Linked DNA regions of Homo sapiens: region 1 is linked to region 2. A link means that fine-mapping ties the variant in region 2 to the expression of a gene that starts in the linked region. Tissue or cell type: thyroid. Region 2 holds a variant in brackets; the other region holds the start of a gene. All regions are shown on one strand. Distances are from middle to middle.

Evidence for each region. PIP is the estimated chance that this variant, and not a neighbour inherited with it, causes the effect.
Region 1: CPSF4L starts here. The variant in region 2 is fine-mapped to the expression of CPSF4L in thyroid (GTEx, PIP above 0.99).

Annotation. Positions count from the first base shown.
Region 1 is chr17:73,260,720-73,263,363 of GRCh38, reverse strand. CPSF4L (cleavage and polyadenylation specific factor 4 like) reads left to right here and starts at 1,484. Exons shown (of 6, transcript NM_001129885.1): 1 at 1,484-1,648; 2 at 2,381-2,431. The coding sequence starts at 1,546.
Region 2 is chr17:73,280,923-73,283,762 of GRCh38, reverse strand. CDC42EP4 (CDC42 effector protein 4) reads left to right here. Exons shown (of 2, transcript NM_012121.5): 2 at 1-139. Among named protein-coding and RNA genes, the nearest start is that of CPSF4L, 20 kb to the right of the region's middle. RefSeq lists an enhancer at 1,869-1,998. The variant C/A (reference allele first, on the strand shown) is at 1,367.

The DNA of each region.
Region 1 (2,644 bases), 20 kb after region 2:
AGGGACGTGGCCCTAGTGCAGAGATGCTCAGGGATGTTTAGGGAAGGAAGTCATCAAGAGACCTAGATGTGAACCCCATCCATAGCGCCTCCCAAACCATGTGGTCTTGGCCTCCCTGGGCTTTGATTCCCTCATCAGTCCTGCCTGCGCTGCCAGGCTTCTGTGAGCCTTTAATGAGCCTGTGTTGACAGATGAATGCATTCTTGGGACTACTAATCAACGCATACAACTAAGGCCAAGAGAAGCCAGGGTTTCTACCCCAGGGACCCCCTTGGCCCCACCCTCTAGCCCTGGAGCTGGGTCCCTCTGCCTCTCCCAGGATGCAGTCAGAGGCCTGAGCTTCTGGAAACTCTTGGATCTCGTCCCTGCTCCTCCCAGTCCCACCTCGGCTCCAGGTGTCTATCTCTCCAGCTATTTTCTTTTCTGATCTGGAGTTCAAAAGAACAGATCTAGGAGCAACAGCCACGGGGAACAACAGCCAGCAGGCTAGTTCATGTTGGCCCAGCTGAGAGCCTGCGGGGCTGCCCACCTCTCCCTGCTGGGTTTGGGCACCCAGAAAGGAGGGCGTATGGGTTCTGGTTCTATGGGCATTAAAAGCCAATGTGACTGAGAACAGCAGCTCTAGTTAGAGGCAAGGCCAGTTTGGGGCCAGAGCAGGGGGAGGGGGAACCTGGTCTAATTAGAGCCCTAACATGCTCCTTTGAAAGCATTGTCAGATGTCCCCAGCCCTGCAGGCAGGGGTGGTGTAATAATAATAAAACAACATTTGCATAGAGATTTCATTTATAAAGCACTTTCTCAGGGGTGGGGTGGCACTGGGTGGCCCTGTGGAATCCTGGCTGGGAGGCCGCCCTGGCCTTGGTCGGTTCCGCCCTCCCGCCAAGCTGGCGATTGTGTGCGAGGTAAACAAAGCGCCATTCATCCAACTGTTTCAGTTCCTCTCCTCTTCATTCCTTTTTCCCTGTCTCCCACGAAGAGCTCACTCGGGGCTTGTCACTCAGGCCAGAAAAGGGGTGTCAGGGGCCCCAGAGGGAGACCCCTTCCCTCATGGGAAGAAGCGGGGAGGTGGGACGGCTCCCTCCCTCTGCAAACCCCCACCACCCCCAGCTCTGGCAGAATAACAGCCTTGCTGCGGTTGGTTTGTGCAACTCTTTGCTAACCTGTGGCTGTGTCTTCATGGACAAAGTATGAGCCCAGGTTTGGTAATGTCTGTGTGCACGCCACGTTTGTGTTCGGTAACATGCAAAGATAAGCAGTTTGTGGGGCTCTGCGAATCCCTCCCTATCCGAGTGAGCCTTGTGTACACAGTGTGGGGGTGAGGGGCCCTGGGGTGTCTGCCCCTGCACTGGGTGGGCCGGGTGAGGCAGCTGGGCCCTGCTCCTGTACAGCCCAGGCTGGAGCGTCCCCTGCAGTCACCTGGCCACTGGCACCCTGGGGTGAAGGGGGAGGCATTGGGCGCTGGCCCCTTAAGGGCCTCTGATGAGCTATATTGGGCCCACCTGCCTGGGTTCCAGCAGCTTCCGCAGCCCCAGCAGGAGACGGAAGATGCAAGAGGTCATTGCGGGGCTAGAGCGGTTCACCTTTGCCTTCGAGAAGGATGTCGAGATGCAGAAGGGCACTGGGCTCCTGCCTTTCCAGGGCATGGACAGTGAGTGAGGGTGGGGCCACTTTCCCTCCCCTACCTTCTCTGTTTTTTTTTCTTTGAGACGGAGTCTCGCTCTGTAGCCCAGGCTGGAGTGTAGTGGCACAATCTCGGCTCATTGCAAGCTCTGCCTCCTGGGTTCACGCCATTCTCCTGCCTCAGCCTCCCGAGGAGCTGGGACTACAGGCGCCCGCCACCACGCCCAGCTGATTTTTTGTATTTTTAGTAGAGACCGGGTTTCACCATGTTAGCCAGGATGGTCTCAATCTCCTGACCTCGTGATCCGCCCGCCTTGGCCTCCCAAAGTGCTGGGATTACAGGCATGAGCCACCACGCCCAGCCTCCCTCCCCCTTCCTTCTCTACAGGCCTCTCTGCTCAACTCCCTGATGCGACCGCCCCTTCTCTGTCTCTCTCTTCTGTGGCTTCGGGGCAACCCATTTTCCAGACTGAGAAAGAGAGGCACAGAGAGACGGTGAATTGAGAGAAGCCACACTGGCCTCCCGAGCTCCTGGGCCAGGCTTGAGCCCCTCGAGCTCCTCTGTTTCAGAGTTGGGGGGTTAAGGGTTGAGGTCTGCTGGCTGGCTCTGCAGGTTAACCTCTACAGGGCCCAGATTTGGGATCCCATAGGCCAGAGCCTGGGGGAGGTCTAGGTGGGACATGCCGATGGAGGTGGAGGCTTCCGGAACAGCTGCAGCCTCTGGGGAAGCTACCTTCTCCGTTCCCTCTTCTCCTTCCAGAGTCGGCCTCAGCTGTGTGCAACTTCTTCACTAAAGGGCTCTGTGAGAAAGGTGAGTTAGCAGACAGGCCTGGGCCCCAAGCTGGGTGAGTGTAGGGTCTGTCTGAGCTACACCCAGCAGGGGCTCTGCCTGGCCTGGGATAGGGTGTCGAATTTGCACCTGGGGAGGGAAAATTGGGATGGAACGGAATTTTATTTTTATTTTATTTATTTATTTTTAGATGGAATCTCGCTCTGTTGCCCAGGCTAGAGTGATCTGGCGTGA
Region 2 (2,840 bases):
GGGGGAGGAACCTCAGGGGCTATGCAGCCCCCGCCAGCTGCCCTCGAATCCCGTCCAGGCCAATTCCAGATTCTAAACTGATTTTTTTCATGATATTGTCAAAACAGTGAGGAAACATTAAAAAAAAAGCCCTAAAGCACGCCTGGTGTCTGTCTCTGCTTTTTGGGAGGGCTATTTCAGGATGGGGGTGGGGTCTGGACCCAGGTCCTAGAGCTGTCCAGGGGGGCCTGAGGTGGCTTCTGTCTCTCTGTCCGTGAGGACCCGCCCTTCCTGCGATGCTGTCTGCCTGGGCAGGCCCCTTCAGAGTCTGGGGACTCAGGTGTCCCTAACTGCCATCTCTTGGAAGCCCTTGGCACTTGGTCGCTTAGCTGTTCTGTGCCTCCCTCTCCTGCTCTGTAAAATGGGTATCCTGCCACTCTTAGAGGGTTGAGGCACAGAAACAGTGACATGGGCTTTTTGTGGGGGAGGGGGTTGGTTTTTTGTTTTTTTTTGTTTTTTTTTTTTGTTGTTGTTGTTTTGTTTTTTTTGAGATGGAGTCTCACTCTGTCGCCCAGGTTGGAGTGCAGGGGTGTGATCTCAGCTCACTGCAACCTCCGCTTCCTAGGTGCAAGCGATTCTCCTGCCTCAGCCTCCCAACTAGCTAGGATTACAGGCGTGCGCCACTACACCCAGCTAATTTTTGTATTTTTAGTAGATACTGGGTTTCACCATGTTGGCCAGGTTGGTCTCCAACTCCTGACCTCAAGTGATCCGCCCACCTTGGCTTCCCAAAATGCTGGGATTACAGGTGTGAGCCACCGTGCCGGTCGACATGGGCTTTTTATACAGTTGTGATTAGGATGAGAGTGACTGTGTTCTCCCCAGCCCCCTGGTGTCCTGGTGCACGGAACTGTCACCACCAGAAAGTGGCTGGCCCTGAAGGCAGTTTCTGCATGATGCTGGGAGCGGGGCTACCACCTCCTCTTTCCCCTTTTACCGTTAAGCCTGGAAAATCAGCTTACAAGTGGCAGGTCCTCAGTTCAACCTCACTTCTCAGGGAGATAGAAGCTCCACATCCCCATTTTCCAGATGGAGAAAGATGATCAGATAAGCCTCGAGGCCGCCTTCTCTAATGCCCAGAATTCATTCAAAACTCCTGCCCTTCTCACCCCACCACTCCTGGGCACATCAAAACCTCGGGATATAAAGTCAGGGGGTGAGGGTCTAGTGGCCCCTGAACCCACTGCCCTGCCCCTGCCCTACCACCTCCTTCCCTTGAATCATGTTCCCCTCTTTCTGGACAGCTTCAGAAGGGAGCCCTGGTCTGCGTAGGGCTGGCTCACTGCTTGTTGAAGCCCCCGCTTGCTCTCAGGAAATCTGGGGAAAT[C/A]TTGGGGATCTCAATGTGGCTGAGTTCCTGGTGGAAACCCTGCACTCTCCCCTGAGCACCCACAGAGAAATGTGAGTTCCCCACTCATCTCCCTGGAAAGCAATTAGAGGCATAATTAAAATGTCACTCAGGTCCCTCCCTCTGTCCCTAGACAGGCTCATTCGTGTGGGAGTTATGAGCGGGGACTTCTGGCTGCCCCAAGGGAAGAAGAGAGAGGGAGGAGAGCTGGGGCCCATTGGGAGACGGGTCCCTAGGGGCTACAGTCTAGCTCAGGGATGACTGGGGAGAGGAAGGTACTGTTCAGGCGAGGACCAGGCAGATGAGAAGGGGCTGTGCCTCCCAGACACAGTGCAACCTCCCAAGAGAGAGAAATGACTGTACCTACACCGACTAACCAGGGACTCCCTAGGGGCCCAGAGAAACCAGCCGCCCCGAGCCCCAGAATCTGTTTCTTGACCATTGATGGAAAAGCTCTGAGCATTCAAGAAGACCCGGGGACCTGGCTTGATTCACAGCTTTAAGGAGCATACCTTCTGGCTGGGGGTTCAGTGGACCCAGGAGACAAGGATGAGATGAACACGCAGAACCAGCCAGGCCACAGAGCTCTGTTAAGATTTGCTGGGAGCCAGGCGCCGTGGCTCACACCTGTAATCCTAGCACTTTGGGAGGCTGAGGCAGGAGGATCCCTTGAGACCAAGAGTTTGAGATCAACTTGGGTAACAGCGAGACAACATGTCTACCAAAAAATAATTTTTTTTTTTTGAGATGGAATCTCGCACTGTCGCCTGGGCTGGAGTGCAGTGTCACGATCTCAGCTCACTGTAACCTCCGCCTCCCAGGTTCAAGCAATTCTCCTGCCTCAGCCTCCCGAGTAGCTGGGATTATAGGCGCCCACCACCAGGCCCAGCTAATTTTTTGTAATTTTAGTAGAGACGGGGTTTCACTATCTTGGCCAGGCTGGTCTCGAACGCCTGACCTCATGATCCACACACCTCGGCCTCCCAAAGGGCTGGGATTACAGCCATGAGCCACCGCAGCCAGCCAATAAATAAATTTTTTAAAAAAGATTTGCTGGGTAGCCTTGGGCCAGTTATTTTCTCGCTCCAATTGGCTTCAGTTTCTCCATCTTTAAAATTAGGCAGTAGCTCAGTTGTTTTCAACTTTTTACCAGAAGCTTTGTTTGCAATGAGGTCATGCTATTTTTTTTAATTGATTTTTTTTTTTCTTTTCCGAGAACGGAGTCTCGCTCTGTTGCCCAGGCTGGAGTGCAGTGGTGCAATCTTGGCTCACTGCAGCCTCCACCTCCCGGGTTCAAGCAATTCTCCTGCCTCAGCCTCCTGGGTAGCTGGGATTACAGGTGCACGCCACCACACCCGGCTAATTTTTGTTTGTATTTTTAGTAGAGACGGGGTTTCATCATGTTGGCCAGGCTGATCTCAAACTCCTGACCAGGTGATCCGCCCACCTCGGCCTC